Homo sapiens: one gene and its partners. The protein of the gene in region 1 interacts with the protein of each later gene in a biochemical or structural test. Each region holds a gene or a part of one and is shown in the gene's direction. Other genes may lie near its edges.

Region 1 (8,093 bases):
TCAGTTTGTAGTTATCTGAAATGGGAGAATAAATTTATTCCATTTTACTCTGTCATGACTAGCGGAAGTCTGTTCTTTCTATTTAGAAAGTTTTTTTAGAGATGATTAGAATGGCATAGTACTTTTAGCTAAATCATCCAAGAAAGGTTGTGTGTCATTTGCTCCATATGAAGTGAAGTCTAATTCTGAACTTTGGAAGCCTTTCGTTATCAAACTCCTAGTTTATCAGATGCAGATTAAAAGGATTTATGTGTGTGTGTGTGTGTGTGTGATATACACACACATGCATATACAGAGGTATCTGTACATATTACATATGTACATATCGTAAAAGATGAAAATATATATCTTTTTATTTTCTGAAATTCTTTGACCCAGACTCAGGTAGCTAGTAGGATTTCCCATAAATTATAAAGTTTAGATAGTTTAGTCCACAAGTTTACCCACTGTCAATTCTAGATTGTTTCAGATTTTAAGTTTGCTTGCTAAGATTGAAATTCTCATATCTCAGGGTTTGCCTTTAAAGTAAAAATGTACAGAGGCTCCTTTCGCTCTAAAGAGAATAAGCCTTTGATATAGCTGTTTGAATTTACAGGGAAATAACTTCTCAAATATTAGTAGTTCTAGTGGTATTTACTTGTTAACAAATACCCCACATTTAGACTATCTTTGCCCAACTGTCTTTTCTTTTTTCTCTAACTTGTTGTAGTTGCAAATGAAGGGTAAAAATAATTGATTTATAGATGTGCTTATCATTTGTCGATCCAGAGTTTTATGAGGATTATTTTTAGTTCAAATTAAGAATTTCAGAGAGAGTGAAGATCTATGCTATAATCTTTACTATTTTGTAGTAACGAGTCATTTTATTTTTATTTTTTTATATGAAGGAAAGTTTATTAAGGATTATTGACTTATGATCACAAGGTGAAGTCCCACAAGAGGCCATCTGCAAGCTGAGAAGCAGGAAAGCCAGTCCGAGTCCCTCATTTTTAAATACTGTGTTTTCATAGAGAAACCACGAAAAGAACTGATCAAATTCATCAACTTTAGAGTACTTATATAATTAATGTATATTTTTAAAATATACCCAAATTGAAACAATGGTTAATGGTCATAAATCAAGTAAAATATTAATGTCTTCCTTTATAATTTTTTTTTAGTACAACACCTCAGGTATTGAGCCCCACTATTACATCTCCCCCAAACGCACTGCCTCGAAGAAGTTCACGACTCTTTACTAGTGACAGCTCCACAACCAAGGTAATTTAAAGATTTCTGTATGTCACATTTACTTAATGCTTCGCCTGCTAACATTTCTGTTCATTGATGACTCCATTCCTAATAAGTTAACAAAGAGACTATTTCGAATTTTAAAATGTTTTAATTTAGAGGGCCATCTATGATTTTTGTGAAGTTAATTAGTCCTTTGGTAAATATTATATAATATTCTTTTTTAATTAAAAAATTTTTTTTCTCAAGTTAAAAATGACATAGGAATAATCTTGAAATGGCAAAATTATAGGAATGGACAACAGATCAGTGATTATTAGGAGTTAGGCCTCTAGGGAGGATGTTACTATTAAATCATGGCACAAAAGAATTGCATTGTGGTGGTACAACAGTCCTGTATCCTGATTGTGGTGGTTGATTACACAGATCCATTCACGTGATAAAATTTTATAGAACTATGCACACACATACACACACACGGGTTTATATAAAAACTGATGAAATCCATGTAAGGTCTTTAGCTGATAATATTGTACTAATTTCAGTTTCCTGGGTATGATGATATACTATGGTTATGTCACATGTTATCATTTGCAGAAGAGTGAGTCTAAAATTATTTGAAAATAAAAGTTAAAAAAAACTGGAGACCCGGCGGACGCAGTGGCTCACGCCTGTAATCCTAGCACTTTGGGAGGCCAAGGTGGGCCGATCACTTGAGCTTAGGAGTTTGAGACCAGCCTGGTCAACATAGCAAGACCCCATCTCTGAAAAAAAAAATTAGCTGGGATGGTAGTACTCTTTGATCCCAGCTGCTTGGGAGGCTGTGGTGGGAGAATCACTTGAGCCTGGGGAGGTCAAGGCTGTGGTGAGCTCTGATTACATCATTACACTCCAGCACGGGCAACAGAATAAGATCCTGTCCCAAAAACAAAACAAAGGCCGGGCACGGTGGCTCATGCCTGTAATCCCAGCACTTTGGGAGGCCAAGGCAGGCAGATCACCTAAGGTCAGGAGTTCGAGACCAGCCTGACCAACGTGGAGAAATCCAGTCTCTTCCAAAATAAAAATTAACCGGGCGTGGTGGCTCATGCCTGTAATCTCAGTTACGCGGGAGGCTGAAGCAGGAGAATCGCTTGAACCCGGGAGGCAGAGGTTGGGTTGCGGTGAGCTGAGAATTACATCTACTTATTTTCTTACTTTTAAATAATAAATGAGAGTTTGATATACTTTCACAAGAGGGCTACACTTAATGCTGACACACCTTAGTCACTATTAGTTAATGTAATTTATGTTCAGAATTACTGTGTTTAAAATTAAATGACTTTGAAGACCTTTGTTTTTATAAACTCTCTTCTGAAAAAAATATAGAATTAATCAAGATTGTACATTTATTTTATATCTAATACTGGAGAAAGGGCTGAGGAGAAATCTAAAATACATGAGTATAACAGGTGTGAAATTTCTTCCCTTTTACAGGAGAATAGCAAAAAATTAAAAATGAAGTTTCCACCTAAAATCCCAAACAGAAAAACAAAAAGTAAAACTAATAAAGGAGGAATAACTCAACCTAACATAAATGATAGCCTGGAAATTACAAAATTGGACTCTTCCATCATTTCAGAAGGGAAAATATCCACAATCACACCTCAGATTCAGGCCTTTAATCTACAAAAAGCAGCAGCAGGTCTGTTTTAAATGCTTAATATTATCTTTGTATTTTATTATGTACTTATTTTAAGTAAATTTCTTTATGTTCATTACAGTACCTTCATTGTTTTTTATATAGATGTTGGAATTTTTAATAGATTAGTTTGTAATTACCTTTTCTAGAGAAGCAGACTAGTTTATTGCGTTTTTTCCTTTGTTTACTATGTTGTTTTCTCCTAGAAGGTTTGATGAGCCTTCTTCGTGAAATGGGGAAAGGTTATTTAGCTTTGTGTTCATACAACTGCAAAGAAGCTATAAATATTTTGAGCCATCTACCTTCTCACCACTACAATACTGGTTGGGTACTGTGCCAAATTGGAAGGGCCTATTTTGAACTTTCAGAGTACATGCAAGTAAGTATAGAAAATGGTTATATATGCCTTTCTAGAGATAATTTCAATTTCATTAAAATAAATGCCCATGCTTAAGAAGGCTAGATCTAAAAGATCAGTATTTATTATGTAATGTCTATATATTTATTTTGTCAGTATTTATAATTTATAGATATAGTTCTTTCTTGTGTTAAGGAGTAATTTAAATTCTTTGCAACTTCTCGGAATAGGTTTATAGAGACCCAAGTCATCCAGACATTCTTACGTAGAGTGTGTCCTATTCAGTTGTGTCTGAAAATACATATTTATATTTACCATGTAATAGGATTTATTTATTTTTCTGCAATATACAGAGTTAATTACTGGGGTGAATTTTTGACATCGAATATGTTTTATAAGCTTGAAGAATGCTATAAAGAAAATTGTGCTGAATTGAGGACACAATGTCTTTAATACAAGGCTTTTTACTCTTTGGATTTTAATTAAATTTGTTGCTTAAGTTATCTGTCTATACCAGAAAAGGAGAGAATGATTAACCTAAAGCCAAAGAAAATTCTAATTCCCAATTTATATTACCCCTTAGTTCTTCCCAAAGCATTTTCTCCACCCCCAACTTAAAAAAAGAAACCTTTTAGAAACCTATATATTAATAAAATATCTCTAATATGGATTAAAGTTGATATGATTCGTTTTTTGCTTAATTTGCTTTCAGTTCATTTATTCAATATATATCTCTGTGCATATGATATCCTGGACTCTCTTCTAGACTCTGTATTACAGCTAGTCAGACAATTTCTTGCCTCTGTGGAGCTTACATTCTAGCAACAGACAGATTATAAGCCAATAAATGTATAAGAACAGGTAGCAATAAGTCATGAAGAAAAATGAAGCATGGTGAGGAAACTGGGAGACAATGAAGTATGGTGTTTTTGTTTTTATGTACTCAGAGGGAAGGTTACTCTTCCCTTCATGATCCATGCAAAGATCTAGGGGAAAGGTGTTCTTTCCCACAGGGAATACATACAGAGGATACCTATTCATATAATTTAATTTTGAATAGTACAGAACAGAGAGTTGAAGACAGAAAGTCTTATTCATTGCTACAAAACCCATGTTTCGATTATGGTCCTTTACTGGTATGTAGCATATACACAGACAGGCAAGAGCTGTGTTCGGAAAAGCCATTTAAAAAATTATTTCTAATTTATTGTTTCACAGCTACTTTAACATAAATGAATTTTATTGTTTCCCCTAGTTATAGTGGTGACCCAAATATTTAATTAAAGAAAGCCTCTGTTTCAACTTAATTTCTGAGTTTTTTTCCCATTTTTCTTTTTGTCTATGCCATAATCATTTTTCAGAGGAAGCAACAGATTCTGAAAACTTTGAAACCAAAAGGTACCTACCTATATTTGGCTGGTAGGTCTTTTATCTTGTTACCATGCCTGAATGAAAAACTTGGCCAGGTGTGGTGGCTCATGCCTATAATACCAGCACTTTGGGAGGCCAAGGAAGGGGGATCACTTGAGCTCAGGAGTTGGAGACCAACCTGGCCAATGTGGTGAGACCCTGTCTCTACAAAAAAATGAAAAAATTAGCTGGGTGTGGTGGCACTCACCTGTGGTCCCAGCTACTTGGGAGGCTGAAGTGGAAGGATCACTTGAGCCCTGCAGGTCAAGGCTGCACACTTACCTTTATAACTTTTAAGAGATTGCAAGGAAGTTACAAATCGTTAAGCTATTCCTATATATCATATGACCACTTCTTGGAATTAAGCACTCAGTTTTAAAATGCTCTTATTTTCTGTCATACTCATTTCATTAAGAATAGTCCAGATATTCCTTATTATAAACTAAACTGTGAAAATTTCTTTTCCTTTCTTTTTTTTTTTATTACCTAGACCTTTTCTGGCAGCTGAGAATTTTGAACTTGGTAAATTGATAAACTAGGAAACTGATTTTATATAACCTAAATCCTCAAACTTTAGAGGGAGAGAAACACAGTTCTGGGAGCTGTGAATGTGATGAGGAAAAAAATTGATGAGGCAGCTGAGGAGAGACCCTGAAGTCAAGAGAGTGCTGCAAAGGAAAGGATAATTAATAGGTAGGGCCTATGATTCCTAGCAGACACAATATTGGTGTGTATATTCAGGGCTCAATAGGATTTATAACCATAGGATTGATAGCCAGCTTAACCTGTTTCTTCCCTCTAAATTTTCTGGCACAACCTCTCGGTAAAAATTGTTCAAAAATAGATTTTATGTTACAGAAATCATTCTTCCATCATCTTTCCTAAAAGAGTTATTCTGGCCAGGTGTGGTGGCTCATGCCTGTAATCCCAGCACTTTGGGAGGCCGAGGCGGGTGGATCACAAGGTCAGGAGATCGAGACCATCCTGGCTAACATGGTGAAACCCTGTCTCTACTAAAAAATACAAAAAATTAGCCAGGTGTGGTGGCAGGCGCCTGTAGTCCCAGCTGCTTGGGAGGCTGAGGCAGGAGAAGGGCGTGAACTCGGGAGGCGGAGCTTGCAGTGAGCCGAGATTGCGCCACTGCACTCCAGCCTGGGCGACAGAGTGAGACTCCATCTCAAAAAAAAAAAAAAAAAAGAGTTATTCTGTAATGCCATTATTAAAACTTGGAAATGAGGTTTTTGAGAAGGAAATATTGACTTTTCTTTTGAATTGTAGCTTTGTATAGATTTCTCTTCGGTCTTTTTGGTAGAAACTCAAATTTCCTTTTCAGAGTTCATGTTCTTACCATGGCTTGTATATAAATACTAGGTTGACTGTCAATATGGTTACATCACTATTTGACCTGCCATAGTAGATTGCTGAATTTGTCCTTGTGTTAATACTCATTCACATAAAAACCATAATACAAGGCAGCATTTAGATCCTGTGAAGATAATGACCAGGGCTTTCCCTGTGTATATATATAAATTGTATCAACTTGTTTTCTCTTACTAGTTTTTTTTATTTCAGGCTGAAAGAATATTCTCAGAGGTTAGAAGGATTGAGAATTATAGAGTTGAAGGCATGGAGATCTACTCTACAACACTTTGGCATCTTCAAAAAGATGTTGCTCTTTCAGTTCTGTCAAAAGACTTAACAGACATGGATAAAAATTCGCCAGAGGTATGTTAACCAAAATACTTTGCTTATATAGTTACCTTTTTGATCACCCTCAACAGATAGAGATGAACCAAGCAATTCAAACACTATTTAGTGTCACCCACGCTTATTTCTTTTTTTTCCTCTCTCTCTAGTCAGGGACTCAGAGAGGAAGAGAAAGTCCTAGAATGTGTGGTGCAGATTCACAAATAGAAAAATCACAAAGCAGCTATTTCATTCAGGATTTATCGAGATTTGACTACGTTAAATTTGCTGTTGTCACCAAGATTAGGGTTCGTTGAGCAGAAGTTACATAGATTGAAAAAATTAATAATTTTAAATTAAAATAAATTAGTATTGTCATTGTAAGACATAGGTGCAATTAATGTACATGCTCTAATCTTGTAAGATTGTATTTCATTGCATCTCAAAAATATTTAATGATACTTTTGTAACATATCTAAGCTTAGAATTAAACACAGTCAACTCCCATTATTTGCGGTAATTCTGTAGTCAACATGAACACTGAATTAGTGCTACTGAACCAATGTTCCTGGGAGTGATGGAGAGTTTGAAACAGAGATAGATTGTGGATTATAATCTTGAATCCTAAAAATAACTCATCCTGGTAGATCCTATTTTCTTTACAAAAGAGAGAATGCTGCTGGGTGTGGTGGCTCACACCTATAATCCCAGCACTTCGGGAGGCTGAGGCAGGCGGATTCCTTGAGCTCAGGAGTTCCAAGACCAGCCTCGGCAACATGGCAAAACCCTTCTCCACAAAAAATACAAAAATTAGCCAGGTATGGTGGCTGGCATCTGTGGTCCCAGCTGCTCGGGAGGCTGAGACAGGAGGATCACTTGAGCCTAGGTGGCGGAGGTTGCATTGAGCCAAGATCACACCACTGCCCTCCAGCCCGGACAACAGAACAAGACCAGATCTCAAAAAAAAAAAAAGAGAGAGAATGAGGTTCAGAGGTGACTTGCCTGAAGCCATCCTACTTAAAAGTGCCAGCAGTGGGATTCAAATTCTGTCCAACTGTCCCCAGAGCCAAAGCTTCTTGCACTACACTAAACTAGCCCACAGAGTTTCTGTCCCTGGTCATCTCTGCATGAGAGCTAAAACAAGAAGGTAGAGTCACATTATTCAACCTCAAATGAGAACATACCTTTTGATGACTATGAAAGCACTGCAAGTATTGATTTTGGTTTTACAAATAAATTTTAGCAATCAGACAAATTCACAAATATGGAATCTGTGAATAATTAGAATTGAGTATCTACTGAAGCTCCTCCATTTTTGTCTTTCTGTTCTAAGTTGAGGCTTGATTTTAGTCATAGATTTGGTTTTAGAAAAAGTAAAATTTTAATTCTGTTTGGTTTTTGTTCCCATTTTTTTAAGGCCTGGTGTGCTGCAGGGAACTGTTTCAGTCTGCAACGGGAACATGATATTGCAATTAAATTCTTCCAGAGAGCTATCCAAGTTGATCCAAATTACGCTTATGCCTATACTCTATTAGGGCATGAGTTTGTCTTAACTGAAGAATTGGACAAAGCATTAGCTTGTTTTCGAAATGCTATCAGAGTCAATCCTAGACATTATAATGCATGGTAAGTGGTAATGAAGTACAAAGACAAAGTCGTATTGATGGTGCTGGTACTTACTAATTTTTCTTGTTAGATAGCTCTTTATTATCATGAATTTGGTTACTT
Region 2 (7,850 bases), on another chromosome or scaffold:
AAACAAGTACAGCAAAAACTTGAATCCTTATGTAATCCAAATGCCGTTTCCTCGAAAACCACAACAAATGCTGCTAAACCAGATAACAGGACCGGGAACATTCGGCCCCCCAACCCCCACCCCACAACACACAGCCTCCGCCCCCAGCTTTAGGGCCAGCAGAGGACATTTATGTTCAGGAACTCCTCTCCAGGACAGATAAATAATTGCTACTAACACTCTCAACTGCAGATGAGCACCCTTGAGGGATCCGGATGCCATAAACTGTCCGGGAGTGTTGGCATCTGGTTCTTAAAGCCAGGACCCCAGGAGGCGTCTGCGTCTGCAAGCTGACTTGGAAGTTTCTGGCCTCTTGATGTTCTCAGTCGAAAATGGTGCATTAGAAAGGGGATTGGTCTGGCCCGCGCTTTGTAGTAGTAATGAGGGCGCGAATCGCGCTAGGCTCTGCGCGCGCGAGGCTCCGCCGAGCAGGAGGACTGGGGCTGCACATCCTCCCGGCTCCCCCAGGGCGGAGAGGGGGGCCGTTCTGGAAGAAAAAATTGTTTATGCGCAACCTCCGAGGGTTCCGAGGAGTTAGGCAGTAAGACGGTGTGGAGGTTGGGGGGGCGGGGCGAGTCTTTCAATCTTTCAAAGGTATTTTTAGGAATCCAGGATCAAAGCCATTCGGCGAGAAACCGAAATAATCCAAAGGAGTAAATAAATCTCGCCATGTGCTAAGACAGTGACCTTCTCCCCATCCACCCTTCCCTCGCGCCAGCCCCACCCTGAACGCCTCGGTTGCAAAAACAAAATAAAGCAAAACCTTTTGCTTTGGCAACCTCTAAGCCACATTATGCCTCCTTTTGCAAAAGGAAGATTTCTTTCTTCTCCCTCTCCCGGCTTTTTTCCTTCGTCCTCTCCTCCGCCCCTCACCCGCCCACCCCCCCCCCCCCCCGAGCCCTTTTCTTTTCTTCTCGGTCCTCTTTCCTTCCCCAAATCACTCGAAACTTAAGACGTGCAGCGTCTGCAGGTGCGCGCGGGCCGGCGGCCGGGCCTGGGCGAGCCTGGGACTGCCGGGCCTCGCAGGCATTGATCAGCTGGGCGCGCGCGCTGAGTGACGGCGCGGTTGCCATGGCAGCCGCCTGAGCGGCGCCGCGAGGACAAGGCTGCAGGGCGGCGTGAATGGGCGGCGTCACGCGCCTGGCGCCAGAGAGTCTGCTCCGGGGCTCCGGCTCCGGCCCCGCCGCGGCCTGGCCCGCGCGCCGCCGCCGCCGCCACCGCCGCCGCCAATTCATCACCTGTCAGGGATCACTCGCGGGGTCACGGGCGGAATGGACACAGCTGTGAGAACAAAACCCGGGAAAGAAAGGCGAACGCTCCCCATTGCGCCAGATGTGCAGGGAGGACCTTGAGACGCGCCCCCCGCCCCCGCAGGCTCCTCCCGCCCCCCGGCGCATCACGCGGGGGTGGCAAAGGCGGCCTGGCCAGCGCGGAGCTCCCGGCCCGGAGCTGCTTCTGATTACCGCGAGGGGCCCGGACGCGAGAGCCGCCGCGGGGCCTGCCCTAGAGGCGGAGTGAGTGAGTCCTGGAGCCAGGCTGGGGGACCTTACGGGCCGGTCTGTCGCTGCCACGGGGTGGGGGCGTCCCGGTGGGGAGTCGAGGGGAACCGCACCAACACCCACCAGCGGAAGCCCTGCACACCTTCCCACCGCCCGCGGATCTAGCCCTCCCTCTAGCTGGGGCCGTTTGAACTTTGGAGGCCTCAAATGCAAACCCACCCAAGCCACCAATTGACAGATTTTGACTTGCCTTTAAACCCACTTGGAAAATGCTCCGACACGATTTTCCCCCACGAAAGCAATTTTTAAGGTGATTTCATATTGGGCGTGCTGAAACAGACACACTAGTAACTTAGGCCTCGTTTAAATCATTAACTTATACAGCTTCGTAATCCCCTTTAAATGATCTTTAAATGAATGTAAAACTGGGTAGCGTGCCAATAGAATCGAATTCAACACAGCCAGGCAGACTGGACTCTGACATGGCAGCTAAAGAAAGAAACACCAGAAAACTTTCACCATATTTAGCCATTTTACTACATCAGGGTACAAAAATGATCATGGGAGAAGGCACTGCCTTAATCAACTTTGCAAAGTGTAAAGTGAAACCGCACAATGCTCATTACCGCCCAACCCAGAGCCTGGCTGTGGGGATAATGAGGCTGGCACGGATGTTAACATACGGTGTCCTTGGAAAAAGCTAGGAATGCGTCAGTATCGAAGAGCTGCAATGTCCAAGAATCATAAGTAATAATTTGAGAATCCCAAAGATGTTTGTTTACATTGGCTATTATTGTAAAATAGTCAAAGTATAACATCATGAACCAAAATAGTGTCAAAACAAAATCTGTTCCACTGTGGCACGTATGTGACAGAAACACATGCACACAAAGTACATCAAAAGGCTCGAACTGTGGGAGGACTCGGATAGTAAATCACTTCCAGACTTAATATCAGAAGAGATACGGTGCATCCAACGCTGTCAGGGACAGAGTCGCAGGCAGCATTGCCTGGCCTGGGGAAGGCCCTCCGCAAACTTCTGGCTGGACAGGAAACAGTTTACCTCCTTCCTCCAAACTGAGGGGGCTGAATTTCAGGAAGGTGAGCTCCACCTCAGTGCCACCCACTCTGCCTCCCTGGAGAGGCGTCATGGGGCGCATAGCTGTCACGTGACGGTCAGAGACTGCTGGCCCCACCAGCTGAGAAATTAATCATTAATTGAAGGAAAAAACACTGTTTCCCCATTATCGAGCTTTTCTTTCAGCTTCTAGGCCTGCCCCTTCCGCTTTCTGAAATGCAAAGGAGGTAGAGATTGAGGCAGAAAGTAAATAAGATTTGAATATTGCCTTTCCTGGAGTTTTCTAGTTCATTGTTTTCTGGAGCAAATATTTTCAAAAACAAGAAACTGACACACTGTGGTCAAAACAGAATTCTAGATAAGCTACAATTATGTGAAAATTAAGGTATTTAAGTAAATAGCTGCAAACTTTTTAAAACTTAGACTGAAAGAACGAGTTCTTAAAAGATTTTCAGCCAAAAAAAAAAAAAAAAACCTTGAACCCGTATTCAGTACTAGTGCTGAAAAGATTCCAAACCTCATATGACAGAATATTTTTTTTTCCTTAGTGTGAAGATGTCTATCAATGGCTAGGGCCACCTATCTGTCACAAAGCTTTGGAACTCCTCTAGGTGTTGGAATGTGACACCAGAAATCACAATTAGTGCATAATTAATCACATTACTTTGCCACCTACACGGAAGGGCACAGACCGGCAGCCTTTCAAGGGCAGTGTATGTAAATGTAGTTTCAATATGCAAATTCTCCTAATTATTTCCGATTAATACGATCATTATAATAGCCCTGCCTCCTTCTTGAAAAGGAACCCTGAAAGCGCCCTGCCTGTGAGAGCTCCTTAGCGACCGGTGAGGTTGGGCATGGTTTGCAATAAGTACTCATTTTCTTGAGTTTACAGTAATGCCTCCCGCGCTGCTCCGGGTTGCAAAAGCCCACACTAAGCCTGTCGTCGAATGCGTGCGTGGGTGGTTTGTTTGTGTTAACATAACTTTTCCTTATCTGAAGAGACGAACTCACTCTACAAACGTGACTCTTCAGTGACAACCTAATTTGCGTTTTCACTTTCTTCTGAAATGCTTTCTATCTTTCCTCACGCTCTCCCTCCGATGGGTTGCAGTGAACTGTGGCTTCCCCCCTGCGGTGCTGAACTCGCCCGTGTAGCTGTGATTTTAGAGCTGCCGACAGCTCTAAGGTGTGTAGGGCTTGGTCTGGGAACACCCCCAGGGCAAGGGTCCCGCCGCGCGCTTGGAATTAGAATTAAGAATGCATATTTAGGCGCCCAGGGTCTGCCCCCTTCTCCCTCCTCCTTCCCCTCCCCCTTCCCCTCCCCCTTCCCCTCCCCCATCTTCCCTTCTCTTCCTCCTCCCTCCTCCTCTCCCTCCTCCCGCCTCCCTCCTCCCCGCCCCCCGCCCGCCGCTCCCCGCCCCCCGCCCCCCGCCAGCCCCGCACTTACTGTACTGTACTCTATTTACCACCCCAGCTGGGCTCGCGCCCCGCCCACCCCGCGGGGATTGGCTGCGAACGCGGAAGAACCAAGCCCACGCCCCGCGCCCGCGCCCACCAATGGAAGCGCCCGCTCGTCTTGATAGACGTGCCACCTTCCGCCAATGGGGACGAAGGGAAGCTCCAGCGTGTGGCCCCGGCGAGTGCGGATAAAAGCCGCCCCGCCGGGCTCGGGCTTCATTCTGAGCCGAGCCCGGTGCCAAGCGCAGCTAGCTCAGCAGGCGGCAGCGGCGGCCTGAGCTTCAGGGCAGCCAGCTCCCTCCCGGTCTCGCCTTCCCTCGCGGTCAGCATGAAAGCCTTCAGTCCCGTGAGGTCCGTTAGGAAAAACAGCCTGTCGGACCACAGCCTGGGCATCTCCCGGAGCAAAACCCCTGTGGACGACCCGATGAGCCTGCTATACAACATGAACGACTGCTACTCCAAGCTCAAGGAGCTGGTGCCCAGCATCCCCCAGAACAAGAAGGTGAGCAAGATGGAAATCCTGCAGCACGTCATCGACTACATCTTGGACCTGCAGATCGCCCTGGACTCGCATCCCACTATTGTCAGCCTGCATCACCAGAGACCCGGGCAGAACCAGGCGTCCAGGACGCCGCTGACCACCCTCAACACGGATATCAGCATCCTGTCCTTGCAGGTAAGACCTGCTCCGGGGTCCCCGCCCCGCCGCCGCACACTCCCGCGGTCGTCTGGGCTGTCACTAGGAGATCCGTAGCCCAGACGGTGACTTTCGTATGAGCTATTTAACTTTATTTTCTTCAGAATCTGCTGTAGATTGAGCTGTGCGTGAAATTGCTAGTAAGTTCTGACATGTTAATGCGTCTGTCTTTAAATCTGAATTGTTACCATAAACGTGTTTAATGGAACTTGCTGGTCTGTGGACTACAAAAAAAAAAAAAAAAAAAAAAAAACCCTTTCTACTTAACATTGTCTTAACCTCGTACTCTTTATCCTCTTTCTTTCCAGGCTTCTGAATTCCCTTCTGAGTTAATGTCAAATGACAGCAAAGCACTGTGTGGCTGAATAAGCGGTGAGTGTTTGCTTGTGCCACCCGTGGGTAAACTGCCCCTCGGTGTGTGTGCGCGCGCGCGCATGTGTTTTTGCTTGTGTATCTATAAAATGTCTGATTTGGTAAATGCATGCTTACTTCGCGGTGTTACCCGTACTACATTGTCTCACTAGACATGAAGGAGCTTGTAGCTTTGGGTGCTCGAGATCACAGAACATTTTCCTTTAAAAGGAAATGATGCCAATAACTTACTACGAAGGCGGCCGAGGAACGTGTGTATTGGCTTTGTAGCAAATGTAATGCCCTGGATCTTCCTACGAGTCCTCTGGTACTATGAGGTACTAACCTCCACTGTAATTAATCTTACCGCCACAAATTCCATAGTGATCCTCCTTCCCTAAAACTATAGTCCTCTGGGATTCTCTGGGCTAGTTGAGGATTGCTACCCTGTGCCTTCAACCCTGTGATGTGGGATCCCAGACTTCCCTATCTGTTAACTAAAGGGCTGTTTTCAATCAAATAATTGTTACGAGAAGCAGACTGGCGCCTGTAGCACTGCTGTTGGAGATCCAAATAGGAGATTGGGTTGGGAAGTTTTTCCCTTGAGTCTCTGCTATTTTAATGTTTAATTTGCGCTGTCGAGGCGAGTGTGTGTGTTGCATCTGGACGCCAGGGTTTGCCCAATCTTTGAGTGTTTGGTTAAATGTTCAAACTGTGGCTTCCTCCCGGCGCCAGTCGCCCGCCTCTGCCCTTAGGTTACATTCTCTTAAACATGCCTTTCTCCCCCACTCTTTCGCAGGTGTTCATGATTTCTTTTATTCTTTGCACAACAACAACAACAACAAATTCACGGAATCTTTTAAGTGCTGAACTTATTTTTCAACCATTTCACAAGGAGGACAAGTTGAATGGACCTTTTTAAAAAGAAAAAAAAAATGGAAGGAAAACTAAGAATGATCATCTTCCCAGGGTGTTCTCTTACTTGGACTGTGATATTCGTTATTTATGAAAAAGACTTTTAAATGCCCTTTCTGCAGTTGGAAGGTTTTCTTTATATACTATTCCCACCATGGGGAGCGAAAACGTTAAAATCACAAGGAATTGCCCAATCTAAGCAGACTTTGCCTTTTTTCAAAGGTGGAGCGTGAATACCAGAAGGATCCAGTATTCAGTCACTTAAATGAAGTCTTTTGGTCAGAAATTACCTTTTTGACACAAGCCTACTGAATGCTGTGTATATATTTATATATAAATATATCTATTTGAGTGAAACCTTGTGAACTCTTTAATTAGAGTTTTCTTGTATAGTGGCAGAGATGTCTATTTCTGCATTCAAAAGTGTAATGATGTACTTATTCATGCTAAACTTTTTATAAAAGTTTAGTTGTAAACTTAACCCTTTTATACAAAATAAATCAAGTGTGTTTATTGAATGGTGATTGCCTGCTTTATTTCAGAGGACCAGTGCTTTGATTTTTATTATGCTATGTTATAACTGAACCCAAATAAATACAAGTTCAAATTTATGTAGACTGTATAAGATTATAATAAAACATGTCTGAAGTCAATACCTGAATTCCGAGTGGTTTTTAAGATCTCTGGCATTCACTAGCTCTTTTCTCTCCCTGTCTCCCCCTCTCGGCCCCCCCCCCCACACACACACACACACATTGTTTTCTTTATCCCCTTCTCCTTCATCCCCCCACCAGCAGCACCCCTGAAGCTTTTACTTGTGTACAGAGAATCTTATCAGATGTGTGGTAAGGCAGAGGGCTGAGTTGACAGGGACTGGGGAGGCTTTGAGCACAGAAGTGCCTCGAGTCCTTAAGAGAAAGCTTGGTTCTGTGCCTCAGGGCTGAGTTTAAAGCCAAGAATGAGTTGAGTCTGGGAGTGTGGAAGCACTACCTGTCTGAGTGGGCGTTAAGACGCTTCTCTGGAGTAAATGAAAGTTAATCAGGAGAAGAAAAGAGGCTGTACAGAATTCAGAACATGATTTCAGGTTTAAGGGAAGGCAGAAACACCCGAGGGTTACTGTTTGCACAGGGAACTAAGCTGTCACCTGGCCCCGGGCTCCTGAGGCCTCCTTGGCTTCGCCTGCGTCCACACCTGTAGCCCCCCCGCCACACCCCACCCACCTCCGGGCCTCCGGAGACGGGGCTGGGCCGGGCGCATTTTCCCGGACTTTTCGATCGCCCTCAGCCTTGACTGCCGCCCTGGACTGGAAGGAAGAGGCAGCGGGCAGAAGCCTTTCCCAGCCAAAGACCGCGGGTGGCCACGTGCTCAAGACTGGTCTGCGTTTTCAGTCCCGGGGCGCGAGGTGGGCTGGGAGGCTCTGGAAGGCGGGTCCCAGGTGGACGCGAACCGGGGGAGGAAGGGATCCGGGCGGGGCAGCAGCTCACCTGGGGCGGAACAGGTGTTCGGGCGGCGCCACCGAGGAGTCCGCGCGTCTCCCCGCCCTGACCCCCGATCGCTCCCCGCGGGCGCTGGCGCTGGAGGAGGGCGGGGGCCGTGGAGCCGCGGCCGCCCGGATCGCCCTGCGGACCCGCGCCGGGGACTGGGCTCTGCCGGGGCCAGCGCGGGGCGGTCGTGTGGTTGATCATCATACCCGGAGGAAGCCCTGAGGGCCGTAGGGGCGTCTTCCCCGTCGCAGGCTACCCGCGGACCTGGCCCCCAGGTCCCCGCCACCTGTCGCCAGCCGCGGCCCCGGCCGACCTCTGCGCGGCGG
Region 3 (8,093 bases), on another chromosome or scaffold:
ACCGCACCCGGTCCAGAGGTTTTAAAGAGAGGGTAGTGGGTTAAGGTATTGATTGGTCAGAGAATGAAGGATGAAGTCATAGGACAGAGAGATAAACCACATTCTCATGCTAATGTGGTTCCTTGATGGGGTCTTAAGACTAGCTTGCATCATCTCAAAAGTCTTAGGCTCCTAACATTAAAAATGCTGTCTATAGGAACATGGTATATATAAACAGGTACAGGAAAGTGGATCGAAGGACAATCTAATTATGCTTATCTGTACTTTTGTCTAAAGCCTGGCTGCTACCTAACCTTGTGATGAAGGCTTTAACAGTTCATCCACATTTTTTTAGTAATAAACTGTACTGTAATAGATTAATAATTAGATTAATTAGATGTAATAATTAATTAAAACCTAGTACCCTTAAATCTGCAAGCATAACTGTTCCATGGCTAGAGTTATTCATGCCTCGGTTCTTTGGGTTTCGACCAATAATTGAAATTGATTGTAGTTATATATTTAGGTGGGATTGGGGGTGTCACAGCTACTTAAGACATTTGAAAACCTATGTCTTTTGTAGATTGGTCAGCTGAAAGCAGTTCAACCTCTGATGAATTAGAGTAATGTGTGGTTTTTTATTGTTTTATTCCAATATGACAATGATCCCTTAGATGTACTTTTCAAATGAGGTTCTGGCATCTAACCAGAAATGACCTTAAATGTTGAAAAGCCATGTAGTTATGGGACCATAGAATACAACTTGTCTAAATACTTCATATATAAAGTATGGAAAAATTAGCGTATAGTAGTGGGAAACACGGGATAGGTGGTGCGGGACATAAGTACTTGTTGCATCTCAGTGGTTTCCTATAGTGGTAACTGTCAGTCTGTGACTAAAATGTGATAATTGCAACTGTCTGAATCAGATCTAGAATGCCCTTTTATGTTATGACCAACTTATATACTTACCAGTCTGATATAATTACTTGACACCCATGTAAGGATTAATGACTTGTGTGTTTATGGTATTTTTATTCTAGTTTTGAGTCTGGAAGCTGACCAGAATGTGTTTGAATTCATACAGAAATAATGTTGATATTTGGAACCCATGTCGAACTTCTATGAAGAAAGGACAACGATGATTGCAGCAAGGGATTTGCAGGAATTTGTTCCTTTTGGTCGAGACCACTGCAAGCACCACCCTAATGCTTTGAACCTTCAACTTCGCCAGCTGCAGCCAGCTTCTGAATTATGGTCTTCTGATGGTGCTGCTGGCTTGGTGGGATCCCTTCAGGAGGTTACAATCCACGAGAAACAGAAGGTTCCATTGAGTTTCCCATTGTGTTTTTGAAATGTAGAGTGATATAATCTACTTGTAATTTAAGGCTACTAAGATGCAACTGAGAGATCGGTGTGATGCCACTTCTAGAGTAGAGTTAAGGTGTGGTAATTTCAATAAATGTTGAAAATAATGACTTTATTACATTGTCATAGCGACTTATTTAGATACCCTCTATAACTTGTGGTTTTATTTATTTTTTATTTTTCAATTTTTTTGTTTGAGATGAAGTTTTGCTCTTTTTGCCCGGGCTGGAGTGCACTGGTGCGATCTTGGCTCACCGCAACCTCTGCCTCCCGGGTTCAAGTGATTCTCCTGCTTCAGCCTCCCGAGTAGCTGGGATTACAGGCATGCACCACCACCCCTACTAATTTTGTATTTTTAGTAGTGATGGGGTTTCTCCATGTTGGTCAGGCTGATCTTGAACTCCGGACCTCAGGTGATCCACCCGCCTCGGCCTCCCAAAGTGCTGCGTTTACAGGCGTGAGCCACTGTGCCCGGCCAACTTGTGGTGTTATAATGTGAGTCAGGTTCAGTAGTATGATTGTTGTCCATTTTAAACCTTTTTCTTTTCACTTAATATGTGGGGACCAGATTTCATGTTATCTAATGATTAAATGGTAGAGATTAGAAGTAGTCCCTGCTGCAGAAGATTTACATGTTTCTAAAGGAGAGAAGAAATGCCACAAAAGTAGGTAGAGTAATAGCTTTTTTTTTTTCCTGAGACGGAGTTTCACTTTTGTTGCCCAGGCTGGAGTGCAATGGCACAATCTCAGCTCACCGCAACCTCTGCCTCCTGGATTCAAGTGATTCTCCTGCCTCAGCCTCCCGAGTAGCTGAGATTACAGGCATGTGCCACCACGCCCAGCTAATTTTGTATTTTTTTAGTAGAGGCGGGATTTCTCCATGTTGGTCAGGCTAGTCTCAAACTCCAGACCTCAGGTGATCCACCTGCCACGGCTTCCCAAAGTGCTGGGATTACAGGCGTGAGCCACCACACCCGGCGAGTAATAGTTCTTAAGTAGAGGAATGAGATGTTAAGTGTGTGTCAGAAAATGAATCCCTCCTGCCTTATTCCATTGTCATATCCCTTTGGGATACTAAAATCTCGGGGAGGGAAAGCCTATGTAGTTACAAATGGAAACTTCTCTTTCTTCCATTCATTTTGGTGGGTGGGACAAAGGAAAAGAAGGTGAATATATATGTGATTGCGAAGCAGGAAGTCTGCATTTGTGTGTGAACTCCCCAAGTGATTCCCACGTGCACCTCACTGTCCTTTCCCTACCCTACCTCATATACTTAATATGTCCTTTTAGTCTCCCAAGCATGTGATTTGACTTTTGGAACTATAGAGAAGGTGTACTTTTTGTTCGTTTTTGTTTTTGGCAGAGTAATATAGAGGAATAATATAAAACATTCAATATAGAGAATTATTGAGTAAATTCTTCATGTAATTCTGTAGTGTAATGCATATATCCACATCCTCCGTTAATCAGTGTACCAAACTTTGTAGGAGTTGTGTTTGAATTGAGTCTTACTCCATGGGCAAATAAATTTTGTTCCAGATTTTTGAAGAACAAAAAAAGAGTGCTTGAATATGTTTTACATGTGTTAATTTTTAAGGAAAGCTGGCAGTTAAGGAAAGGAGTAAGTGAAATTGGAGAAGATGTGGACTATGATGAGGAACTCTATGTTGCTGGAAATATGGTGATATGGAGCAAAGGAAGTAAAAGCCAGGCATTGGCAGTTTATAAAGCATTTACAGTTGACAGTCCTGTTCAGCAGGTGAGTTGATTTGAATTTTAGCATTTGATTCACTATTTAATGCAATTAAAAAAAAGTTTTGTTTTAAAATTTAACAGAAATGATAAAACCAGCCTAATGATCTCAGCAGCTGGGTGTACGTTGTAACATGACATAATATAATGTGAAGATAATGGCAGGAAAATAAAAATTTAATTTTATTTTTATATCATCACTTTTTTTACACTCTTCTTTGTCACTTTAATGGTAATCTTTAAACACTCTGTCCTTATGTAATTCAATTTGTTATTGCCAGCAAAAACCTATAAAACATGAAGAGTACAGAAATATTTTAACACATGATTACTATAATTGATTGCAAAGATTTGAATAAATAAAAATCGTGGGATTCATAATGGTAGAGAGAAAGGAAAAAATCTGCTTTGCAGCCATTGCAGTTGGCTGTTATAACTAACTGTTCTGAAAGTTGATAATGAAAGGGAAAGAATTAAGCATTTGCCATATTTTTTCAGGAAGACATGCAGTTCATCTCCATTTGATGAAGGAAAACTTGTACTTAGAGAAGAATGCTAGCTAATAAGTGTAAAAGGAATTGTAGAATTAGAATATCACCATTTTGTAACCTCCAGTGCAATAATTGATTCCAACAAGGATTGTAAATGGATACTAACACTGTTGGTTGAAAGAATATTACCATGGCACCAACACATCACCCTGTGGATTACCTGGTAAATGTGAAGGAACAAATGTACCTCTACTTTGGAGTTATTTGTCAGTCTCCACCTCAATCAAGTGATTGAGTTTAGCATAATTAGTAGTGACATGAAGGAGTATTATGTGCTTCTAGCTATAATACAGAATGAAGTACATGATGTCATCTAAGTTTTCTTCCCAAAAATATGAATATTTAGACCTAACTTCCTATTTATAGGAAATATAGGCAATAGAGAATTATATTTTAAAATACCATGAGATAAGGAAATAGATAGCTAGGAATGGCTAAAGCTTTATTATTATTATTATTGTTTATTTATTTATTTGTTTTTTGAGATGGAGTCTTGCTCTGTCACCCAGGCTGGAGTGCAGTGGCATGATCTCAGCTCACTGCAAGCTCTGCCTCCCAGGTTCATGCCATTCTCCCGCCTCACCCTCCCGAGTAGCTGGGACTGCAGTTGCCCGCCACCACACCCGGCTAATTTTGTTTTTATATTTTTAGTAGAGCTGGGGTTTCACTGTGTTAGCCAGGATGGTCTCGATCTCCTGACCTTGTGATCTACCCACCCACCTCGGCCTCCCAAAGTGCTGGGATTACAGGCGTGAGCCATCATGCCCAGCCAAGCTTGATAATTATTAAAACTGGCTGATGGGGATTCATTATCCTATTCTGTTTACTTTGTATTTATTTGAAATTTTCCATTATAAAAAGTTTATAGTCTACATTCTGGTTTCTTTAAAAAAGTCACGGAGAAAGAAAAAAAGGTGGGGACTGTTCTACATTGAAAGAGACTAAAGAGACATCACCAAATGCAGTATTTTTTGATCCTTGTTAAATGAACTTTGATTGAGTCCTGGTTTTCTAGCTAAAAAGATATTTTTGGGGAAAATTTGGGAAAGTTGAAAATTACTGGCCAGTAGCTGATGTTAGAGAAGTATTATTTTTTTCTCAGGGACGATGATTTTATGGTTTTATAGGAGAACATCTTTATTTTTAGAAAAGGCATGGTGAAGTATTTAGGGGTGAAATGTCATGATGTGTGTGCAATTTATTTTTAAACAGTCAGCATTCCCATTCCGAAAATCCCATATGTACACAAATGCACACACACAAACAAATATGGCAAAATTTTCATGATTGTTGGATATAGGTGAAATATGTTTGCTGCATTATTTCAACTTTTCTTACTGAAAATTTTTATAACAAAAAGTTGGAGGAAGAACTAATGCATTTATTGTAGTTGAATTAGGGTTGACGAGGTTTTGGAGGCTTTGACTAATGTTAAGTTTCATTTTTGTAAATGCTGAAATCTTTGTATCTGGATACTGCTTCCTCCCACTCCTCCCGCCTACCGTTAACTATTTCCTGATGAGTACTGTATTCTATTTATTGGAAAGGATAAACTGAATCATTATTCCAACATTTGAGGGCATATGTGAAAGCATTTGTGTCCTGGAGTGTTGAAGCCAGTGATCTTTTTGATGGTAAATTTTTTCCCATATAATTCATATAGTTAGTATAGATGTGAAAAGTGCATTTGATGATATCCAAGTAGTTCTTTGCTTCTATATCTTCATCTTAATTTCTCCAAGAACAGTTGCCTATTTACTAGATTCTATGGAAGTGCAGTTAGATATATTATCTCCTTTATCTTAAGATCACTTGTAAGTGTAATTGTAAGATTTGGAATTTCAGTCTTTTGATCTGGAAAATATATTGTTACTTAATCTTCTTGCTAATATGGAGAAAGATAATTTTCTATTTTGTTTATGAAATAATATCAGGTATATGTGACTCAGATTTTATCTGTTCATTGTTTTACCTATCCTGCAAGTATTTTTTTTTTGGTTGTTCTTTTTATTTTTTCATTTATTCTTTTTGTTTTTTAATAGAGATGGGGGTCTCACTATGTTGTCCAGGCTGGTCTTGAACCCCTGGGCTCTAGTGATCCTCCTGGCTTGGCCTCCTAAAGTGTTGAGATTACAGGCGTGAGCCACTGTGCCTGGTCTTCTGCAAGTATTTAGTCTCACTCTGTTTCAGCCATTATGCTGGGGCTACAAAGGTGAATGTAGTTTCTGCCATTGAAGGACTCATAGCCTAGAAAGGAGAACAAACAGATCACCTGAAATGCTGTATTCTGAATGCTGTATAATAACTACCTGTCCACAGAGTGATGAGAGCCCAAAGGACTGAGTGCCAAAGGGAGGGTTTTTCAAAGAAGATGCTATTTGTGTTATAAAATGGTGGCAGAAGGGCATTCTAGGCAGAGGAAATCACAGCAAAAAGAATTATGGAAAAAGATGACTTTTTAAACTTCAGAATGGCTGTACACGAAGTGTGGGTGTGGAGAGATGCAAGTGGATGCTGGCAGTATACAGACCAAAGGGCCTTGTATATAAACCAAGGAATTTGGATTTTAAACTGTGTGCTGAAGGGAGCCTGCCAAGGATTTTAAAATGGAAGCGATCAATTTTGTGTTTTGAGAAGAGATTGCTTTGTTAGCAATATATATATAGGATTGACTGGAGAGGAGGGAGACTGTTGTCAGGGGCACTATTTTGTGACTGTTCAGGTAAAAGATTGGTGCCTTGGCAAAGAAGGGGTGATAAAGCAGAGGGAGATGTGGAAGGGGTTAGTGATCTCTTAGATATCAGGGATAAAAGAGATGTTAAAATATTTACTTTTAGAGGCTGAGAGGATGGGATTTCATCAAAGGAAGTTGAGACTGTAATCGGTGCATTGTAGATTTTGGACATTTCAGGTTGGAGCACAGCTCTCATGCATGGTTTTCTTCCTGAATTTTCATTTCTTAACCATTAAAATCTCCCACAACTCAACAATAAAACAAACTACCCAATTAAAAAATTGGGCAGAAGGACTTAAATGGACATTTTTCTAAAGATGCACACATGGTCAGTAAGCACATGAAAAGATGCTCAGCTTCGCTAATCATTAGGCAAATGCAGATTACAACCACAATGAGATACCACTTTACTAGGTTGGCTGTTATTAAAGAAACATAACAAATGTTGGTGAGGATGTCCAGAAATTGGAACTCCTGTGCATTGCTGATGGGAATGTAACATAGCTGCTGTGGAAAAGTTTGGCGATTTCTCAAAAAGTTACACGTGTAGCCAGGCATGGTGGTGCATGCCTGTACTCCCAAGCTGTTCAGGAGACTGAGGCAGGGGGGTCATGTGAACCCAGGAGTTCTAGGCTGCTGCGAGCTAGAATCATGCCTTGCATTGCAGTTTGGGTGACAGAGTGAGACCCCATCTCTTGAAAGAAAAGTTATACTTAGAATTACCATTATGATCCAGCAGTTCCAGTTCTAGGTATATGCACAATTGAATTGAGAACAGGGATTCACAGATACTTGTACACCAGTGTTTTCAGCAGCATTATTTATGATAGCCAAAAGGTAGAAACAACCCATGTCCATTGACAGATGAATGGATAAACAAATGTGGTATATGCTAACAGTGGAATATTGTTTAGCTTTAAAAAGGGATAAAATTCTGATACATGTCATAACATGGATGAACCTTGAAAACATTATGTTAAGTGAAATAAAATAGATATAAAAGGACAAATGTACAGTTTCACTTACATGAGATACCTAGCACAGGCCCTTTCATAGGGAAAGTGGAATAGAGGTTACCAGAGCTCAGGGCATTGGGAAATGGGGAGTATTGTTTAATGGGCACGGAGTTTCTGTTTGAGATGAGGAAAAAGTTCTGGAAATGTGCAGTATTGTACAAGCTCACAAATTGTACTAAGCTCGTCAATTTAATGTTAATGCTACTGAATTGTCTACTTAAAAATTGTTAAAATGTTAATTTTCATATTGTGTGTATTTGACCACAGTTTAAAAAAAAACACAAAATGCTGTTAAATAATAAGTGATTGCCAGGTATGTCAGTTAAAGTTTAATAGCTTTTCCTAGTTTATATTTTGTAAGATGGGCTTTTAAGAAAGGGAGGAGTTAGTTTTTCTAAAGACTTTTTCAAAAGTCAGTCTAGAGAGAGTCTAAGATCAGTTGTTTAATCTGGAGATTATAAAGTTTGAATAATCTTTAGTTTTGTAGAGGATATAGGGTTTAGTATGGTTTGAGCTACTATTTGAATTTTTGCTGCAAAGTTTCTATCTGGTAGATTTTTTGATTCTTGTCTTCTCTTTTTGTAAAATTTATTTTTTTAATTTAAAATTTTAATTCCTATGGATCTTTTCATAAAATTTAATTGTAAACATATTTTGCCTTTCCTTATCATATTTATCATTTATTACTCTAAT
Region 4 (8,093 bases), on another chromosome or scaffold:
GTTTTTAACTTCATTTTTTTTTTTTTTTTGACATCAAATGTTGTCGGGTGACTTAGTGAGGAAGGGACTTGGTAGAATGGAAGACACAAGAAAAGATTGACTTCCGGGGAAACAGGAAATGGGTTTAGAACATACTGAGTTAAAGAACATAGTGTAAAAAATGTTAACATTTTAAATTGAAGTGTGTAATTTGAGATGATCAGGGACAGAGCTGTAGATGTGTTTATTATAAAATAAAGTCAATAATAAGATACCCTACTGTGGATGAATTCTAAGGAAAGAATATGAATGGTGCCACGATTAAGGATAAAAACCTGGAAAATACAGCTACCTCTTATTTGATAGGTGGAAGAAAATTGAAAGGAAATATAAGAGATAAGAGACTCAACAGTGTTTAGCATCAAAGCCCAGAGAGTCGAACATTTAAGGAGGAGATTGTTAGTTGTACCAAATGAAATGCCACAGAGAGGTGTAGGAAGATCAGGACTGAAAAGAGGGCATTGAATTTGATATTTGACATTTTAGAAATCTGGTTTCAGTCGAGTGAGGGAACCAAAAGCAGTTTTCAGTGAGAGTAAGTGGATGGTCCTGAATTGGAGAAGGGGGGTTTAAAATACCTGCTTGTTAAATTTTGCAGTTAAGGAAAAGACAGATGGGTAGATTGAAAAAGAAGGTATAAGAGGGAAAGTTCTTTTAAGATAGGAAAAGACGTATGCATTTTAAGCATTTTAATTTTGATAATTACCTAGTTGCCAATACTGGTTATTGTCAAGGGTTGTAAATTTAATCTAATAAGGGAAAATCATTATTTGTTTTGCTCTACATTCTTCATTTATGAGTCTGGGTCTCTTCTAAATTTCACAATGTGTTTTTCATCAAAATTGTGTTTCTGTTAGGAAGAAAGTAGAGGAGAGTAGAGATAGAGTAGGAAGCTAGCAGTCTCCATGGATAAATTTATATTTTATCTATATGTCTTCTGGGTTTATTATGTCATGTCTCCAAAAGCTTGCTTGTAAAGAGTAAGATGACATCGAGCTCTTATTTTTCTTCCCAAATGGAAAATTTCTTAATCCTTTTCTTTCCTGATTATCCCCCCATTTGAATGCCATCTTGACTTACTACCTGGTAAATTCTCAGATAGATTTGCTGGTTCATCTGTCCTCTCTAGTCAGTCCATTCATCTATGTAATCACTTCTTCTTTTGTACTAAATTGTTAACACTATAATTTTATAATCTGTATTGGGTAGGGTTAAAATACTCCTCCCCATTGTTCTCAATATTTTCTTTCCTGTTGTTATGTAATTATTTTTACAAATGAACTTATGTACCTAACATTTGGTTATGATAGCATCAATTCATCTTTACTCCACAAATCATTTTTTTAATTAAGACAGAATTTAATGTATTGGTTAATTTAGAGAGAATTGACACCTTTACAATACTGCATTTGTCTTCCTTTTGTATTTCTATAGTTTTAATATTTTTAAAGTTCCTGTATATTTTTAAATTTTATTTTTAGATACTTAACATTTTTCTATTATTATTGGGATATTTTATTCCATTTTAGTTTCTAATTTTTTTAATTGTGGTAAAATATACATAACATAAAATTAACCATTTTAAGTGCATTAAGTTAGATTCACATTGTTAGGCAACCATTACCACCATCCATCTCCAGAACAATTTTTATCTTTCCACACTGAAACTTTATACCCATTTCACAATAACTTCTAACTCCTTCCTCCCCGCAGCCCCTGACAACCACCATTCTACTTTTTGTCTCTGAAATTGGCTATTATGGAAACTTCATATAAGGGGAATTGTACAGTATTTGTTCTTTTGTGACTGGCTTATTTCACAGCATAATGTTTTCAAAGTTCTTTTCATGTTGTAGCTTGTGAGAATTTCCTTTTTTAGGTGAAATAATATTTCATTGCATGTATATACCATACTTTATCCATATATATTTCACCATGTGTTGGTGGATACTGAAGTTACTTCTACCTTTTGCCTGTTGTGAAAAATGCTACTGTGAACATGGGGTACAAATATCTGTTCAAGTCGTTGCTTTTATGGTTTTTTTTGTTTTGTTTTTTTGTTGTTGTTTTTGGGTTTTTTTTTTTTTTTTGAGTATATACCTAGGAATGGAATTGCTGGATTATATGTTCTTTGTTTAATTTTTAAAGGAACTATCATAGTGTTTTCCACAGCAACCACACTATTTTAACATTCCCACCAATAATGCACCAATATTCCAATTTCTCCACTTCCTTGTGAACACTTGTTTTATGCGTTTTTGATAATAGCCATTCTAATGGGTGTGCAGTGGTATATTGTTTTAGTTTTGATTTTCATTTCCCTAATGATTTGTGTTACTGACCATCTTTTTATTTGCTTATTGGAAGTTTGTATATCTTCTTTGAAGAAATATCTACTCACATCCTTGCTCGTTTTTTATCGGGTTGTTTGGGTTTTTTTTGTCTTTTGTTCTTTTTGAATTTTAAGAGTTATGTCTATGTTCTGGATATTAACTCCTGAGGTATATGATTTGCACTTTCTTCTTTCCATTCTGAGGGTTGCCTTTTCAGTCTGTTGGTAGTCTTTAGATTTGATGTAGTTCCATTTGTCTATTTTTGCTTTTGTTGCCTGTACTTTTAGTGTTACATTTAATAAATCATTGCCAAGTCTAATGTCATGCTCTACTATTGTTAAAAGTTTCTTTAGCTCTTGTGTTTAGGTCTTTGATTGATTTGAAGTTAGTTTTTATATATGTTATCAGATAAGGGTCTAACTTCATTTTTTTGTATGTAGATATCCAGTTTTCCCAGCACCATTTGTTGAAAAGACTGTCCTTTTTTTATTGAATGGTCTTGACACTGTTGTCAAAAATCCTTTGGCAGGGTTTATTTCTGGGCTGTCTATTTTATTTCATTGATCTATATGTTTGTCAGTATGCCAGTACCATGCTACTTTGATTACTTTATTTTTGTAGTGTTTCCAGGTGTTTGTTTTTTGTAGAGAAAAACACTAGTGACTTTTAATATTAATTTAGTAACCACGTATCTTACTGAATTCTTAAAGGGTTTTTAAATTGATTTTACAAAGATACAATTATGTCTACTATGTCTACTGCAAATAATTATAAAATGGTACTTCCTCTCAAAATCTTTTTTTTTTATTTTGGTCTTAATTGCACTAGTTTTAAAACAATGTTAATTATGCTGTCTACATAATTGTATTTCATTTTCTCATTGCTGGTTTAATGGAAGTTCTAATATTTCACCATAGAGTGTGATGTGGCATTTGGTTTGAGATATGTTCCTAAACTTTTGAGGTTGACATCAAAAAGCTTAGTTGCAATTTGTTGCTTAATTGCAATTTTGTTTCTTGTTCCTGTTGTCAAGAATAGAATGTTGGTCTGAAGACATCAAGGAGGGACTGGACTACTCAAGACAGTTGTGGGATGTATAAATATATCACCATGTGTCATAGGAACTTAACTAATTTACTTTTTCTTTTTTTTTTTCCCCTTGCAGAATGGCCAAAGTTTTCTGGTCTTGGATGAGCAACGATTTGCAAAAGAAATTCTTCCCAAATATTTCAAGCACAATAATATGGCAAGCTTTGTGAGGCAACTGAATATGTGTGAGTATGGACAGCAGTTTATTGGAGTACCATTATCAGCTACTGATGAAGCCATTTTTTTTCCCATTAGGGTGGTAAAGGAAAATTATTCCATACAAGCACCACCAAATTTTGACTTGTTTATTTTAGTCATTTGAATTTTGAATATTTTTCAGATGGTTTCCGTAAAGTAGTACATATCGACTCTGGAATTGTAAAGCAAGAAAGAGATGGTCCTGTAGAATTTCAGCATCCTTACTTCAAACAAGGACAGGATGACTTGTTGGAGAACATTAAAAGGAAGGTGAGCTATTGTGAACGTGAGCTAATTAGGGTATTGACCTGGAGTGTGCTTGGCCAAGATTTTTATTTCAGCTGTTGAAAGTACAGAAATGCACAACTGTTCCTTGTTGGGATGAATTAGGATAATAAAGTTTTACTTGTTTCCCTGTATTTTTTTCCTAAGTTAGCTTAAAAAAAAAAAAAAGTTTAAGTTCCTGCTAGAATATGAGCTCCCTGGAAGACTTTTTCTATAGTTTGTAATTGTACATCCAGTACCTACAATAAGTCTCTTCTAATAATATAAATATGCCCACATAGTAGGCATTCAGAAATACATTCAGTAATATATTTTTTAATGCATAATATCTTTTGGTAAAATAAGATATTTTACTAAATCTGTAAAAGGGGTGGACCATGAAAGAAAATGGCCTAGCATGAACCTTTTACTGCATAAATTTAATTAAATGTGGAATGTGGTAATAAAGAGGCTTGGGGGAAATTGCAAGGAGCTTGGCATAAGGGGAGAATAAAAGACTCTAAGATATTCCTGCTTGCGGAAACTTTTTAACATTAAAAAAAAATTTTTTTTAAGTAGATTATTCCTTGCGTTCTCTCCCATTGAGCTCTGAAGTTTATTCTTTCCCTAGCATTTCATCCCGGGCTTTTGGAACCAGATCTCACTTCCTGAACAGGCTACGAAAACCTCTTCTAATAGGGAAGCTTTGAATTACAATCATGGGTGTTTACTGTTTCTTTGATTTTCTAAATTTACTTTTTCAAAGGTTTCATCTTCAAAACCAGAAGAAAATAAAATTCGTCAGGAAGATTTAACAAAAATTATAAGTAGTGCTCAGAAGGTTCAGATAAAACAGGAAACTATTGAGTCCAGGCTTTCTGAATTAAAAAGGTAAAGTGTTATTTCCAAATATAATTTTAATCTGGGAATTGGGTATGTGTCTATGTGTGTTGAGTTTGGAGGTTGTCTGATGTTTTATTGTAAGTACTCAGATCACTTTGTTGAAGCCAAGATCAAAGGTCATTTTTCTGCAAGTATTGGTTCCCTTTACTTTGATTTGTGGCCACTGACTTTACTCTAATATTGTTTTAATTATGATAGTCAGAAGAAGATATAAACCTAAGCGTATCAAAACAGTTTGATGTATAAGTCTTAGCAATAAACAGTAGGTCTTTAAGATGATGTAGGAAATATGATTCTATTTAGGTTAGCTCATATGGTGCTCATAGACAATGAGGGCATACGACATAAAAACCCTGTATGTTACCCATCCTTTGTTTAATGGCTGTCTCTTAAGATTTCTTTGTGTGGACTCTTAGGAAAAAGTAGGACACAAAAAAATCGGAAAACGATGCAGGAGAGTTGCCATGCTTGATACTTATTTCGTATAGACTTGGAAAAGTGTTATTCAGAGCTTTTATCTACAGAAAGATGCTTCGTTTTATTTTACTACATTTCTTGGTTACCATTATTGTAACTTGCCATACTAATAACTTGTGTATAGAGTAGATAGTGTATTACTCTTCTTAGTAAGTAGCTGGAATTTTTCTGTATCCTAATAGGTGCCAAGGGCTTAAGAGTGGTTACTTTACATATTCTCTCTTCCATATCAGATGTGAGACGTTACTTTAGTTAATCATAACTCAAATATCTTCATTAAAAGAGGAACCTATAACTTTGATTTCTTTTTTAAATAAGCTTTAGGCTTTCTCTTCTTGTGTATTTAACAACTTGTTTACTGTATGTATCTTGTGTATACTAGCTGCTCTTTGACCCAGTTCCTTGGGACCACAGTTTCAGCCTTTAAAGAAAGTGATCCCCAAATCATTTTTTGTACCTTAGAGGGAACTTTCTTCTCCTTATCTTTTTGTTTGTTTGTTTTTGTTTTGAGACAGTCTCACTCTGTTACCCAGTCTGGAGTGCAGTGACTTGATCTTACCTCACTGCAATCTCCGCCTGCCGGTTCAAGCGATTCTTGTGCCTCAGCCTCCCTAGTAGCTGGGATTACAGGCATGTGCCAGCTAATTTTTGTATTTTTAGTAGAGATGGGGTTTCACTGTGTTGGCCAGGCTGTTCTCAAACTCCTGACCTCAAGTGATCCGCCCACATCGGCCTTTCAAAGTGCTGGAATTACAGGCACGAGCCACCGCACCCAGCCCTACTTATCTTTATTTAGTAAGCAGATAACAACATTTTTTAATTTGAATCAGAAAAATACAGTAGTTATTCAGTAAATATTAAAATCTCCTTTGGTATACCCTTATATGTAAATCTCCAGTTCCTTTTATATTAGTTTGGATTAAAGAAGATGACTTGTGGAGAATAACAAAAGATGGAAAATTAAAGCATTTAATAGGTATTCAGCATTCTCCGTGCTGCGAACATTTAACAACATAATGCAGTTTCAATTAAAAAAGGTGAACGAAGAAGAAGCTATTCATATTTGGCAAGTTATTAGTTTATTATTGGATATGCTTTTTCAGAATAACATTTTAGTGGTTTACATATGCTGTTGTTTGAGATAGATCTTAAGATAGTTTTAGAATCTGACAGACTTTAGTTTGATTTCAACACTTACCAAATTATTTGTATGATCTTGAGCAGTTCCCCTCAATTCTCTGTACCTCAGTGTCCTCATCTATAAAATAGAGATGATGACTTATTTCTTGGTGGTTTTTAGAGAAATTTTAAATAAGTAATACACATAAAATGTCTAGCATAGTGCTTAGAGTATAGTAAGTGCTGGGTATATATCACTACCCTTTATTTCCTAAGGTGATTAGGAAGGCCTGAATTCACTTGGTAACCACAGTTGAAAGATTAGCTTATTTTTTTTTAAGCAAAAAATAATGAGCCAGATTGTCAAAAGTAGTAAATTGCCAACTACTATATTGATGTAGGCATATGTCTTAAGTTTCTGTGTATCTATTGTCATGAGTAGCAGATACTACACTTAGGAAGGAATGATTCTGGTGCTGGGTGCGGTGGCTCATGCCTGTAATCGCAGCACTTTGGGAGGCCGAGGTGGGTGGATCACCTGAGGTCAGGAGTTTGAGATCAGCCTGGCCAACATGGCAAAACCCCGTTTCTACTAAAAATACAAAAAAAATTAGCTGGTTGTGGTGGCACATGCCTGTAATCCCAGCTACTTAGGAAGCTGAGGCACGAGAATTGCTTGAACCCTGGAGGTGAAGGTTGCAATGAGCCGAGATCGTACCACTGCACTTCAGCCTGGGCGACAGAGCAAAGCTACACCTTTTTTTTAAAAAAAGAATGATTCAGGAGTTGTGTCAAGGTAGTTGTCATTCCTATGTAATTGAACCAAAGTTTTCTTGGTCTCATAAATACATATAGTAAAAACAAGTGTAGTTCAGTTGTCTGGTATTCTTAATTAAAGATACTATGGTCTGGTTTTTTGATTGATTTTTTTTTTGTTTTGTTGCTTAATAAATTATAACATAGTGAGAATGAGTCCCTTTGGAAGGAGGTGTCAGAATTACGAGCAAAGCATGCACAACAGCAACAAGTTATTCGAAAGGTAAGAAGCTCTTTTCCCCAGGACCATAATTTGCATTTGTTTAATGAGTACTGTTTGTGACCCAAAAAGGTCTTTATTGAGTGTCTGTGATTGATCTTAGTTTCTTACATATTGGATGCACAGATAGAAGTAAAAAATGAAATGAAATTAAGCCAAGTGTTACACATTTTTAATAAAAAATTTCTCACTAGCTAAAGATGGTTATTCCATACTCGCAGATAATGTCTCAGTAGCTTTTAGTAAATGATCTTTTGCCTAATATAACAATTTTGAAATACTTTATTTTTATGAGCATAATGAATACACTACCAATTTCTTTTAAAATTAGAAAACATAGCCTTACTGGTTTTTTTTGTTGGTTTTTATTATAAAAGGCATAGTTAAGGTCTCAGAAGATAAATGACAAATATTTTCAAATCAGTTGACCAAATTATGAGTTCAGAAAATGATTTCTCAATGTATGCTGTTATTAGTCTGTGGAGAAAAGCAGTTAACATAGTGTTGTAAAATGAATTTTAGATTTTAGTATCTGAGCTGAAAATTTAATAGAGGAGTTGGAATCCCTCCGTTTCATTGTGTCCTTGTGATTTAATCTTTGCATATCAGCTTTCATTTGCTAATAAGAGATGAAA

What was found.
Region 2: the proteins of CDC27 (region 1) and ID2 form a complex in vitro, tested with the Homo sapiens proteins (one study listed by BioGRID).
Region 3: the proteins of CDC27 (region 1) and ANAPC1 form a complex in vitro, tested with the Homo sapiens proteins (one study listed by BioGRID).
Region 4: the proteins of CDC27 (region 1) and HSF2 form a complex in vitro, tested with the Homo sapiens proteins (one study listed by BioGRID).

Annotation. Positions count from the first base shown.
Region 1 is NC_000017.11:47,137,050-47,145,142, reverse strand, and holds part of CDC27 (cell division cycle protein 27 homolog), read left to right. Parts: intron 1-1,160; coding exon 1,161-1,260; intron 1,261-2,706; coding exon 2,707-2,914; intron 2,915-3,117; coding exon 3,118-3,290; intron 3,291-6,251; coding exon 6,252-6,404; intron 6,405-7,782; coding exon 7,783-7,991; intron 7,992-7,997; exon of another isoform or gene 7,998-8,093. UniProt on the Homo sapiens protein: Component of the anaphase promoting complex/cyclosome (APC/C), a cell cycle-regulated E3 ubiquitin ligase that controls progression through mitosis and the G1 phase of the cell cycle.
Region 2 is NC_000002.12:8,677,761-8,685,610, forward strand, and holds ID2 (DNA-binding protein inhibitor ID-2), read left to right. Parts: upstream 1-4,295; 5' UTR 4,296-4,405; coding exon 4,406-4,753; intron 4,754-5,082; coding exon 5,083-5,139; 3' UTR 5,140-5,146; intron 5,147-5,924; 3' UTR 5,925-6,701; downstream 6,702-7,850. UniProt on the Homo sapiens protein: Transcriptional regulator (lacking a basic DNA binding domain) which negatively regulates the basic helix-loop-helix (bHLH) transcription factors by forming heterodimers and inhibiting their DNA binding and transcriptional activity.
Region 3 is NC_000002.12:111,873,823-111,881,915, reverse strand, and holds part of ANAPC1 (anaphase-promoting complex subunit 1), read left to right. Parts: intron 1-1,066; 5' UTR 1,067-1,090; coding exon 1,091-1,303; exon of another isoform or gene 1,304-1,423; intron 1,424-2,944; coding exon 2,945-3,106; intron 3,107-8,093. UniProt on the Homo sapiens protein: Component of the anaphase promoting complex/cyclosome (APC/C), a cell cycle-regulated E3 ubiquitin ligase that controls progression through mitosis and the G1 phase of the cell cycle.
Region 4 is NC_000006.12:122,408,836-122,416,928, forward strand, and holds part of HSF2 (heat shock factor protein 2), read left to right. Parts: intron 1-3,537; coding exon 3,538-3,646; intron 3,647-3,801; coding exon 3,802-3,929; intron 3,930-4,689; coding exon 4,690-4,814; intron 4,815-7,385; coding exon 7,386-7,461; intron 7,462-8,093. UniProt on the Homo sapiens protein: DNA-binding protein that specifically binds heat shock promoter elements (HSE) and activates transcription. In higher eukaryotes, HSF is unable to bind to the HSE unless the cells are heat shocked.